Linked DNA regions of Homo sapiens. The protein of the gene in region 3 interacts with the protein of the main gene of each other region in a biochemical or structural test. Each region holds a gene or a part of one and is shown on either strand. Other genes may lie near its edges.

The links. Proteins that work in one complex are often made in the same cells at the same time.
Region 1: the proteins of DLG1 (region 3) and TANC1 interact in a test that uses a peptide from one of them, tested with the Homo sapiens proteins (2 studies listed by IntAct, with this or other methods).
Region 2: the proteins of DLG1 (region 3) and IQSEC2 interact in a test that uses a peptide from one of them, tested with the Homo sapiens proteins (2 studies listed by IntAct, with this or other methods).
Region 4: the proteins of DLG1 (region 3) and CTNND2 interact in a test that uses a peptide from one of them, tested with the Homo sapiens proteins (2 studies listed by IntAct, with this or other methods).

The regions. Positions count from the first base shown.
Region 1 is NC_000002.12:159,230,640-159,233,159, reverse strand, and holds the end of TANC1 (protein TANC1), read right to left. Parts: coding exon 2,148-2,520; 3' UTR 501-2,147; downstream 1-500. UniProt on the Homo sapiens protein: May be a scaffold component in the postsynaptic density.
Region 2 is NC_000023.11:53,314,851-53,318,350, forward strand, and holds part of IQSEC2 (IQ motif and SEC7 domain-containing protein 2), read right to left. Parts: intron 1-3,500. UniProt on the Homo sapiens protein: Is a guanine nucleotide exchange factor for the ARF GTP-binding proteins.
Region 3 is NC_000003.12:197,064,613-197,068,112, forward strand, and holds part of DLG1 (disks large homolog 1), read right to left. Parts: intron 2,143-3,500; coding exon 2,092-2,142; intron 1,198-2,091; coding exon 1,096-1,197; intron 853-1,095; coding exon of another isoform or gene 839-852; exon of another isoform or gene 837-838; coding exon 664-836; intron 1-663. UniProt on the Homo sapiens protein: Essential multidomain scaffolding protein required for normal development. Recruits channels, receptors and signaling molecules to discrete plasma membrane domains in polarized cells.
Region 4 is NC_000005.10:11,894,447-11,897,946, forward strand, and holds part of CTNND2 (catenin delta-2), read right to left. Parts: intron 1-3,500. UniProt on the Homo sapiens protein: Has a critical role in neuronal development, particularly in the formation and/or maintenance of dendritic spines and synapses. Involved in the regulation of Wnt signaling.

The DNA of each region.
Region 1 (2,520 bases), on a different chromosome or scaffold from region 3:
TGTTTAAGATTCCAAGAATTTTATCACAATACAACACAGTTTAATGTTCTCTCTCATATTACTTTGAAATATGTAGGCATAAAGACATACTTTTAACTGAAAGATAATACAAATGTGTTAAAGAACAAACTGTCATAACAGTGTTCAGTGTATTGCCAAAGTGTTTGAGAATTACAGTAGTAAAGATGTCCCGTTGCCAGTAAAAACAGACACCAAGATGTCTTGAAACAGATAGATAGGAAGTATATATTGCTTTCCTGCATGCTTTCTTTCTATTTGAGGCAAAAAGACTAAATTTGGCCCTTGAGTATTGTGGAATTTCTAGCAGCTGTCACCCTTATTCTGAAATTATAAAACGAAATTAAATAAGCATTTTGTAGTGTTAATATAAAATATGCTTTTCACTATTCCCTCTAGGGTAACAAAGATTAAAAGCAACAGAGATAGCTGTCATCAGGCTGTTCTCTACTTATCCATTGACTCATTTAGTGCAAAACACATTCTATTAATAGTCTTTATTCCATATGGAAAAGTACAGTAGTTGTGCAGAAACAAAACTAACAAAGGAGTAAGACTTTCACAAATATTAAAGAAAATAAATAAGCCATAGTAGTTACAGCAAAACTCATGGAAAGCCTATAAAAATGATAAAGCTGTTCATACAAAGTACAATTGTACACACAGGAACAAACGTTGAAGAATGACATCAGAGGTTCCTATTTGTACAAAACCATAATGATGTTCACAGGAACTTCATTACAACAATTCACTTTAAAACATTCTGCAAATATATAACTTCCTTCTCCTCAATTTTAGAAAATAAATTTCACATCCCAACATATAAAACAGATACACTCCTACTTCTCTCAAATTAGCATTTTAACATCTTCCAATAACACACCATTTTCATATAAAAATACCTTTAAACCAAGGTTCATTCCTGTACCTTATCTTTACAAATGAATAATACATCAGAGCTTGGACTTAAGTAGCACCTCAAAGGTGTTCATATAAATGAGATAAAGTGCTGTTACTGGTATACTGTTAACATGCCCTAATAATATATCATTCAGTGCAATAACCAGCATGGATGAAGCTTACAGAGAACATGCAAATCGTGACTGGGGTTTTCTTTTTTGTTTTTAGATTAACTACATTGAAATAGTTCTATTTACAAGTCTGAATAAAACTGGGCTATTTAATATATACAACATGTGACTATAAAGTACTAATTGTACAACAAAACAAAAGTAACAACCAGTCTTACCTTTAGTATCTGAATTAAATATTGTCCTTAGAGGAGCTTGGAAGGATTGTTCCAGGAGCACTACCATTGTTAAAAGCAGTTTGGAAACCAGGTGAGAGCTAATTTATAAGCGCCACTAAGAATGCTGGTCTTAGTATTTTAGCTTGAATCCACTTGACCACCAATCATGACTCCAAATGGCTTATACTGTTTCCAAATATCAAAAACACCTTCAAGCACAAATATAGGTTCCAAAAGTGCTATAAAAATATATGAATAAGAACCATAACACAGAAATAAGTGTTTAATCCCTTTATAGGAACTGCTATGAAGAGAATACTTAGGTGTTCTCATATTCTGCTTAAAAAAATTGGCTGCGTTTACAGTCGCACTTATATTTAGCTAGAACTCACTCAGAACTTAATTTTTATGTATATATAAAATGGGATTTGACTCAATGGAACTGTAACTGTAAAATTCCATCGTTTCCAGAATACATCACTTGGATGTACATCACTTGGTCATGAGTTAAACCTGTTACTCTTGAACAATAGACATATTTATTCTCTAAGTAAGTTCTGTGATTCTACCATATAGCAAAGGCAAGGAAGAAAGTGGCAAAAGCCAAACAATTTCATAAGTGAGAGTCATTAATGTCTTCTGGGCTGTCTTAAAATTTTAAGTTGATATAATTTTCAATTCTGTTTAGCATTCTTATTTATGGTGATTTCTAGCTATTAAAGAAGTTTTATCCCACATTTTAGATATATCAATGGCATCAGATCCACCCCAAAGAAAAAAAATGGCTAAAAAATAATTTTTCTGATGAAAAAAACTATTTAATTTACCACCAGGAGTCAACACACGTTTCCAAATTCCACAAATGGGGATTTCTTAAGGTTCACACATTTGACTCTATAAATGATCGCTTTGGTTTGGCTGCAGTGAGGTGGCTCCTGTGGGCTTCATTACTAATATGAGGCTGCTGTTTGGAGATACTTTCCTGGTACAGATGAGAAACAGTCTTAGTTATCCTGTTCTCTTGAGAGTGGACTGGAATTTGGCACTTGCTTTCTTCTAGCTCCTTCACTTGTGCCCCATTGTGGACACTTGCACTCAGGGTAGAAACAGAACAGGTTTTGGCTTGGTTATTATATCCTCCCACTTGCATGAGAGAGGGCTTCTCAGTGTTAGCAGACTGCAGGCCAGCTGCAGAAGACGTGTTTGTCAGCAGCCCCTCTGGTGCCGGACAGTGCCAGCTGCGGCTTGGAGGA
Region 2 (3,500 bases), on a different chromosome or scaffold from region 3:
GAGACCATGGCCAAAATTCAGGGGGTGATGGTGAGAGGGAGCCTGCCTAGAGCAGGGGTCCTGGGAGCTCTGTTGGAGGAAGCTAGAGCCACATACCTGGAGTAGCTCTGATGTCTTTAAAGCCCACCTGCGGGAGGCAGCGGTGTACCATAGGTTTGGAAGCCAGACAGTTCTGGGCTCCATCTGCCTGAATAACCTCGGGCAGGTCACTGTACCTCTCTGATCCTTGTTTCCTTGTCTGAAAAAATGAAGATAATAGGCTGGGCGCAGTGGCTCATGCCTGTAATCCCAGCACTTTGGGAGGCAGAGGTGGGCGGATCACCTGAGGTCAGGAGTTCGAGACCAGCCTGACCAACATGGTGAAACCCCGTCTCTACTAAAAATACAAAAATTAGTCGGGGGTGGTGGCACGTGTTTGTAATCCCAGCTACTCGGGAAGCTGAGGCATGAGAATTGCTTGAGCCCAGGAGGTGGAGGTTGCAGTGAGTCAAGAGTGTGCCATTGCACTTCAGTCTGGGCAACAAGAGTGAAACTCATAAAACAAACAAACAAACGAACACACCCATCTGACAGGGGCTCTGTGCAAATGAGGTAAGAAGTAGTGCTCCAGGGTGGGTTAGAACACTGCGGACCCTGAAGCCCAACTCCCTGGGCTCCTCCAGCTCCTTCACAGTTCTGCCACTTATTCATTGAGTGATCCTGGGTATGCTATCCAACCTTTCTGGGCCTCAGTTTCCTCATCTGTAAAATGGAGTTAATAACAATATCTACACGAGAGGATTCATGTGGAGATTGAATGAATTAATACATGGAAAGCGCTTAGAACAAATAGTGCTTAGCACACAGTAAGAGCAGTGAAAAAATGTTAGCTATTATTACATAAAGTCACATAGCGTGGGGCCTGGCAGAAGGCTGAGACTCACTCGGTACACGTGTGGCCTCTTCCCCATGCTCCAGGCCTTTACTCTGCGCCCAGCAAATTCAGAGACCTTGGTAGGCAGGGGTGGGACAGATGAGGAAAGGGCAGGCAGCAAGTCTGGTCTGACGTCTTCCTCCCAGCTGCCACCTCCATGAAGGGACCACTCACATTCCTTCCATACCCCTCATCCCTCACCCACCGCCCAGGTACTCAAACAGCAGCCTGGCCTGGCCTGATCCCTCCTTCCTCTGAGAACTTCCACTCCTCACCATTCTTGCCACTCATTTTGTCCTGAGTGTTGCCTCTATGGCATGGCTAGGCCTGCAACCCTGTCTCCCTGGATGGAGGGGAGCAGGGGTTCTGCAAGCGCTAAGAGTGCAGTGTTTGCTCAGCCTCGTGGCCCCTCCTGCGCTGTGCACACAGCCAAGAAATGTTTGTAGATGATAACAACCCCATTCTTGCCCCAGATCTAGATAGAGAAGCAAGACTCTCATTCTCATTAAATTCAACATTACCATTTCCTCCCACACGAAGATAATGCTCACAACACAGTGGGAGGGAAGATAAATGGTTTTCCCTCCTGGGAAGGAGAGACACCCCCTGGGAAAAGTACCCAAGACCCCAAAGGAGAGACTTCCCTGAGCCTCTCCCTGGGCTCACTGTCTCACGTGCTGTCTCTCAGTGGCCTTAGCCCCTGCGGGGAGCATGCTGACATCCCACTGCAAGCAGACGACAGCATGTGGTAGACCATACACTGCCCTAGCTGTCAAGAATACCACGTTGGGCCGGGCGTGGTGGCTCAGCACTTTGGGACGCCAAGGAGGGAGGACCGCTTGAGCCCAGGAGTTTGAGACCAGTCTGGGCAACACAGAGAGACCCCGTCTCTGCTTAAAAGAATTGGGCGGATAGCAACTAGAAGGGCCAGCCTGGTGTTCCTTTTTTGCAATTATTGCTCACTGCAGCCTCAAACTCCTGAACTCACTTGAGTAAGCTATGTTCGCAACACTGCACTCCAGCCTGAGCAGCAGAGCAAGACCCCTGTCCCAAAAACAAACCAAAACCAAAAAAAAAAAAAAAAGAAAAAGAAAAAAAACACCACCAGGCCAGCCCCTCTAGTTGCTATCTCCAAGTGTAAGCCAGCTTGCAGGGTGGATGGGGGTGGGGGTAAAGGAAGGAGAGTTGCCACCATACCAGCTTCAGCCCACCACCGCCTACAGCAGAGCCGGAGCTGGGCCCATGCAAAGAGCGTGGGAAACGCAGCTCTTCAGCGTGGAGCAACTCAGCAGGGGCCCCTAGCACTCCTATATATCACTCTAGGTGGCAGGACTGCAAGGGGGCCAAGCCAAGATCAACAACAAAAGCAGAGCTATTCTCTAATCAACCAGGCTTGGGGGGGTATGTGGACAATTCCAGGTAAAAAGACCTGAGCATTAGTCAGGACCAACGACTAAAAAGCAAGCAAACAAAACCTTCGCGTACAGAGGACCCAGGACCAAAAGGAGACAGGGACGCATCTCACTCTATCTGCACTAGAAAGGCCACACCCTGAGCACAGCAGAAGGGATACTGGCATCCTGGAACCTGTCCAGAGGGGACGGTGCAGGAGGATATGGGAATCCTGGGTGGATGACATGGATGGGGGTGGACATGACAGCTGATGTCCAATGCAGTAGAGGGAAAGTTCACAGGATTGGGAGTCTGTCTTATGAGTAATGTAAGCTCTGGTGGGCTTCACTTCTCTGATCCCCCAGTTTCTTCTGCTGTAAAATGTGGATCGTGGTGACAGAAGCACGGGATCATTGGGAGGACTAAAGAAAGTCCCTAGGCACAGCGGGGCCCCCCCAACAAGCTGCAGCTCGGCCCAGGCACCACTCTCCCCTCTTCCTCCACCAGGGGGAGCCTGGGGACCAAGAGAGCCCAGCCTGTACCCGCTCTACCTAGCCTCCCCCAATGCTGCAGCCTCTGCTGCTAAACTCCCACCCTGCCTGCCCTCGCTTCCAGCGGCTTCTCACCCACTCCTTACAAACCCAGAACAGACCTAGCAGGGGAGTCGCTTGCAGCAGCAGCAGTGACAGCAATGGCTACTGCATCAACAGGCCCTCCTGATGCCAGGCCAGGAGGGAGAGTGGAAAGGAGGGAGACAGAGCCTTCTTCCCTGCCGCTGTCAACTCCCCACTCATCCCAGACTCATCTCCTCCTGCTCAAATCCTCTAGAGACCTAAGGCTCTCCTGGCCTCTCCTAGCTCAGTGCCAGGCCAGGTCCTGAGGCTAAGAGACTCCTGTGGGTTGGAGAGCTCTAGAGAAAAAAATACCAGGCCTTGGAGACAGGAAGACTTGGGTTCTAGTCCCAGCTCCATTAGCAACTAGTAGGGTAACCTTGAGTGAGGTCCCTTCATCTTGGAGCCTCAGTTTCCCCATCTCTAAAATGCAGTTGCCAACACTCACTGCAGAAGGCTTGTTGTGAAGTCAAAAAGAGGTAATAATGGGTGTGCAAATAGTTAATATATGGTCAGGAGAGAAACTTAAAGTACTACCTAAACCCCTTTATTAATCCAGTAGGAAATGCAAAGCAAGGAAACGC
Region 3 (3,500 bases):
GGGTTTCTGGTCTCTGTTCCCTGTTTTTATGAGTTCTTTATATATTGGGAATATTAGCCCTTTTCTTGCAAATTTTTTCTGTCAGTTGTCTTTTGACATTGTTAATGGTGTTTTCCAATAGTTTTTGGAAAAAGTCTTTGGCCATAAAAAAAGTTTTTTAAAAATTTTAAGTGGTTAGATTTATTGATCTTTCTTTTTTTTTCTTTTTTTAAGAGCCAGGGTCTTGTTCTGTTGCCCAGGCTGGAGTTCAGTGGCATGCTCATAGCTCACTGCAGCCTCAAACTCCCAGGCTTCAGTGATTCTCTCAACTCAGCCTTCTCAGTAGCTAGGACTGTAAGGGTGCACTGCCACACCCGGCCCTTATCTCCTTTTAATATATGCTGGAGAGCTAGGCCTAAACAAAAGGTCTATCTCTAGCAAATGACCTGAAAATAACTTCTCTTACATTCATGTTATCATTTCTATTTTCACTTTCTTTGTTTACCTTATTTACCTGTTTTATCTTGTATGCACTTTCCTAAGCCATGGAAAATTAATTATTTAGGTAAGCAAATTCATCACATTAACAAAACTAATTAGTGCTGTATCTATCCTACCAGTCTTGCATACTGTCAAAGGCATATCTGATTAGAAGCTATATTCTGGGATTAGTCTGATGCTTACCTTTTCTGCTACTTCTCGTACAGACTGAACACTTGTTCCATATAGATGATTGTTATACTGGCCAGCTTCAATGAATTTATGTTCCTGGATATCTTTTTCCATCTGCTCTCTTGAAGTCACAAAATGATAATCTCTTCCATCTACCTCATAATCTCGTTTTGGTCTAGTTGTATCTTTAACAGAAAAAAACTTGGGAAAGTGTTTAATATTAAAAAAAAAACCACAATAAATCCATTTTCTACTTACATCGTTTTGTAAAGTTCAACAGAACAGATTAATTTAAATCTGAGAAAGGACAATAATATGGAGGATGGAAGAGTAACTGATAAAATAAGTACAAACCATTAAAAAATGGTTATATCTATTTTTCCCACACACAGTGACAGGAAATGTTAAGAGTAACAATTAAATGTTTTTGTTTGGTTTACTTACGAGGAACACAGGATCCAAATTTGTCAGGAAATTCTGAGATCAAGTCATCATTTATCCTGTCTTTCATAGGTCCCAATATGATCACTGGTCGAGTATAATTAACTATAAAGATAAACTGCATGTTAAAAGGAATAAACATTCAACAAATATCAATGTATTTTATTTCACCAGCGAACAAAAATATCCTTAACTGTTATGACTAATTTTTTTCTTCCCTCTCCATCTCACTCTACCATCAACCAAAGATGCGTAACTTGCTCTTTTATAATCTTGACTCAGATCTTAAACTTTACTTAGTCTTCTGCTAGAAGTCATATTGATAATTCAATCAAGTTAAATTTGGTGTTTTCGCAGATAATGTTTCTTTACATTGCAAATGACAGAATAAAGTCTAGTGTTTTACAGATGGCTTTGAAGTAGAAATTGTAAGGAAGCAGAGCAAAGAAGGGCAGAACAGAAACTGGATGTAGGAAGTGATATAATCCCAGTAGTAGCATTCTAGAAAGATGATCTAACAGAAGTGTAAACTCTGGGTGGTCTGGGATCATGCTGGAATAATGGAGATTGGTAGTGAGACTGAGAACTAACATTGTGATAGAAGGGATGAAAAGAAGGTCATAAATAAGAAAGAAGTGGGATAAACAGTGCCTGGAACCTAACTGGATGAGGAGGAGGAGGAGGAACAGAGAAGGCTCAAAGATACTTCCAAGATTTTCAAAAAAGGGTTATTTGGAAGATAGTGATGCTAACAAGAACACTGGAACAAAGTTGCTTGGGAAATAAAACACAAATATAAAAGTCAGTATGAAATGACTAGATTCTAATATTCTGTGGAGTAAACTATGTTTCATAAAACACATGTAGTAAATTTCTACATGTATATGTAGTAAAAAAAAATTTTAATACAACATTTTTTGGGGTATGAGAATTTTTTTCCCCCAAATTAAAAAGTATATTCTTCTAGAAGGTTATAAAACATCAATAGGCTTCACAAACCTTCTTGTTGATTCACTGGTTCATAAGATAAGACGTATTCTTCTTGACCACCTATTAGAAAGTGAAGGCACAGATGAAAAATGTGTAAAGATAATTGATGCTAATCTAATTCTTCATAAACAACATATACATTACTAGAACTTTCCTGAGAAAATGGCAAAGATATGGAAAGAGGTACTTTATGGCAAGATTTAGTTAAAAAAAAGTGTCAAATTATAAAGTCTTAAAAGTGAGTTTGCTAAATGTAAAACAAAATACAAATGGGCTATATAATCAATATTATATTTTATAGATAATCAAATCTAAAAATCTTCATTTGTGATGCTATGTGCTACTCCTTTATTTAGAATCTAAGAATTATTAAATCTGTTAAAGATTAATGCTTTAATGAGCAGATCTGTCTATCATCTATCTACGTATTAGGTAATTTGTTACTATTAAAAACATGCTACTTTTTTTGTTCCACCAACTACAATACTGAATACAGTATATTTTATTTTTAAAATAATTACATCTTAAAATTAAAAATTATAAATGCAAAGGTAAAACTACTGTTACTATTTCACTGATGAAAAATTCACTAACTCAACTTTGTAAAAAAATAATAAATTTAATGTGAGTCAAAAAGAGCTTTAGATAAAACTAAATCCTTCCAAGAAAATAAACAACAGTGATAGTAAAGGAGATAAATATATTTGCTTTGACCTTAAAAACACAAGAAGTTAAAGCTTCTAAAGGTTAAATTAAAGGTTCGGAGCTTAGGAAATACTCTAAATAAAAGAGTCTACAAATTATATCTGAATATCTGAATCCAGTGAAAAGAAATAAATAGTTAAAAACTCTGAGAGTTTTTTTTTTTTTTTTTTTTTTTGAGACGGAGTTTCGCTCTTGTTGCCTAGTCTGGAGTGCAATGGCATGATCTCAGCTCACTGCAGCCTCCAACTCCCGGGTTCAAGCGGTTCTCCTGCCTCAGCCTCCCAAGTAGCTGGGATTACAGGCATGTGCCATCATGCCCAGCTAATTTTGTATTTTTAGTAAAGATAGGGTTTCTCCACGTTGGTCAGGCTGGTCTCGAACTCCTGACCTCAGGTGATCTGCCCGCCTCGGCCTCCCAAAGTGCTGGGATTACAGGCGTGAGCCGCCGCGCCCGGCCAAAAACTCTAGGAGTTTTAAACTAACACACACACATCCCCCCTCACCCCCACGCCTAAAATTAGAAAAGACTGTGTTAACCCAAGTGGTTCAATGAAAGCAATCAATATTGGATAATGTATTTGAAGACTTTCTCTTTAATTATCAAGATCCTATAACAATTTTACCATGAATTTTGCAATTGGTTTATATTATATGTATGTAGCTGTAGGTCTTTTAAATCCATACATTGGCATAAACATTCTTTTCTGTTTTAG
Region 4 (3,500 bases), on a different chromosome or scaffold from region 3:
GTAGCAATATCTTTACAACCACTATGGAAGTGGGCATTTTATAAACACATTAGTAACAAAATTCAGAGATTTAGTTTTATAGGCAAGAAAATCTTTTGACTCTAACTCTTACCCCCCACCATTACTGTATTTTTGAAGTGCATCAAAAGTTCCAGAGAATATATTTTATACTTAAATGTTTATTATGATTAAGCTTCCCAAAGCATTTTCACCTAAATTATCACAGCACATTCAACAAAGCCCTGTGAGTTTTTATCCCAAGGAACAAATGACAAAATAGGCAAAGATGCAAAGTCACAAGAGAAGGCAAGTGCCAAGCACGATTTAGATCCCAGAACTTGGCATCCTAAGGCAGTGGTCCCTCCAGGGTGCTGCAGTGTCTGTACCCAAAACCAACCCAAAGCAAGCAAAGAAACCTTGGTTCAGAAACCATTTTTGCCCCAAATGATGAACTAAGTGTTTGTTACATGCCTACTACTATCCTATGATTTGTGGATCAATTATTTTAAAAGATAGATTACCAGTATGGGGTGGGGCTGGGGAGAAGCATGGTCCTATGTGACCAGAGAGAAGGAGTGTGTGCCTGAGAGCAGGGGGAGAAGGTAGAAAATCATGTGTTTGCCTAAAAACAGTGTCCTGGCTCTTCCCAACGAACTTGAACTTGAGAAATGAGACATCCCTGAAGAACACACAGTCAAGTGCCAGAACCACACACAAAGCACTGCACCTGTGAGCCCCGGACTGCCACAAACACCTTGCCTTTTCACACAGTGATCCTGGAGTCTGTGCAGGTGCGTTTATGCTTCATGTGGGAAAAGCAAACGCCAGAATTACAGAAAAGCATCTGGCATCTGTATTATTTCGCAGTAGAAACAGCTAATGTGTGTTGTAATAGTGAATATACCACATACTCTGCTATGTATTTTAAGTCCATGGTCTCTTAATTCACCGTCGCAACAACCTGAAGACACAGGAATTATTGTTTCCCCTGTGTTATGACACTTAGTAGTAAAATAACCGTTCACTTAGAAAATGATGAAGTTGGGATATGAACTCAGTCAGTTGGGGTACAACTTTGAAGCTATTTTCTCAACCATTTGCTCCACTGCTGTATTTACTACTGGGACACACGAAATCAGCAAGCAGTAAAATGTTTCCTTAAAGAAGAACTCCTGTAGGACAAGTGAGTAAGTTTAACTTCAAGCTTTAGAATTATGCTCCCAAAATAGGAACCAATAAAATGATATATAAACTGTTAAGACATGACAGAGTGACATAATTACTATAGACAAACAATATAAATCAATTTTAAAAAAGGAAAATAGATAAATTGAGAAATGTGTATAAGATATAAAAAGATAATTCACAAAAAAATTAGACGTAGACACCAACAAATTAGAAAATATTTAACCTCAGGAATATTAATAGAGAAGCAAATGAATTAGAGAAAAACACAATATTTCTCCTATGTAATTAGAAGTTTTATTTTTCTCATTACAACACCCAGTGTTGTTGAAATCATGGGAAAATTTGTACACTCCTGCCTTGCTGAGAGAAATATAAATTATATAATCTTCCTGGAAGACAAATGAACAACATATATCAACAACCTTGAAAACATCCAGTTCTAGGAAGTAATCTAGAGTAAATAACCTGATGACAACTATTTAGTTATTAGGATCTTAATTACAGCATTAAATATAACTACCAAAAATGAAAATGTCATCAATCTCCAATAACAGAGTGATGTAAGTAAATAATGTTATATAAAGGTATGGAAAACAGACACTAAAAATAAATACTAATTACATGAGATGTTAATAGGTAACTAAACAGAATATGAGCAATGTTTTCTAAATTTAAAAATGTGTATCGCTTGATATCTCTGCTAAAAATATGGTCATTTCTGGGGCTTGCAACCATGCATGAATTTTAACTTCTTTTAATCATTTCTGTATTTTTGAATTTTCAATGAGCATGCACTACTTTTGAAAACAAACAAATCTCAAATTTAAAGGCGAGAAAATGTAAGTATGGCTGATCAAAATCTGTGTAATCTACATTCCATGATGAATGACCTTTGTTAACTTTAAGTCATGCATTCAGCTAATTAATGAACTTCACCCCAAAATAAATATATACTATTCTTTTCAAGAATGGAAAGGCATGCTTTTCTTCTGCATAATGTAATATATATATTAAACTATGATATATTTAGTGGAAAAGTAATATATAAAGAACAAAACTCTTGAAACCCTGACATAAACACTGTGTTCTCAGTGTTCTCACATTTGGGAGTGGGTATGTGTGCTGGGTATCACATTCAATATAGTTATTTGCCTTGATTATCTTCTTAGCTTTAGTATTATGAATAGTTCTCATATAATTAGCTACTCTGAAACTATAATTCATAATTGCATATTTCTTTGGCTAGAGGTGCCATAATATATCTATGCACCTGCTATGAATTTAACATTACTCTTTTTCAACCTGAGTTAAGCAACACAAATAATCTGATCCAGATGCTACAAGCCCCAGCCTTCCTGCATCAACCTTCCATGTCCTGGGTTAATGAGACAATTTGTACTATCTCTGAGACTTTTTATATAACACCTGTCTGTCTTTCTGGAGGATTCTTCTTCCTTATTTGGTTTCCCCATGACCCCAAGAACAATGCTCCACACCAGTGAAGACTGTGTTAGAGATGAGAGATTGAACTGTGGCTCTTTTACATTTGGAGCTACCAAAGAGGTTGCTCTTTCTGGAAATTACATTATTGTATACTGTTGAAGGTAATGACTGCTATATTAGTCTAATATTTGAAAGTCCAAATAAAATATGTGACAGAGGATAAAATTTGTTTTAAAAAGTGAGCATTTTTAGATTGAGTAGTCATGCTTAGACTTAAATACAACATCGTATCTATTTAGAAAAGCAATGTTTATCTTCTTTCTTTACTGTGTCCATGATTTCTCCTATTAATTGCAAAACATCAAACAGCCACCAAAATCTAATTATTTATACTGAGGCAGAAAAAGCTGTGGAAAATAGCTAGCCTAGATCACTTATATATGGTTTGGGAAGTCAGATTTTAACATCATCTTTTTTATGTCTAATTCTCACCACTTACAAAGCGATCCAATTATTGGCAGTTAAAGAATAACATGAAAAATAGGGGAAGAACGCCAAGGGTAAGTTATTTTAAAGTTGGCTATACATAAATCTGCTGAATTTCATGGACCATAGTTGCTACAAATCAACCAGGGCATTAGACGCTACCTTGATAACTCTTGATGTAGTGTCAAAATACCATGAAATATTTAAAGAGCTCAACTACCAAGCAAAGTACTGTGAAAGCTACTATATCCAGAATTCTATCAACTAGAATTCTTCATAAACCATGCCAATGGGGAACACTTCTTCTCTATTCTGATATTTCCTTTCAGGCAAAGGGAACTTAATTAATGTAACACTGCTGGCCTCTCTCCAGCTTTTCACTT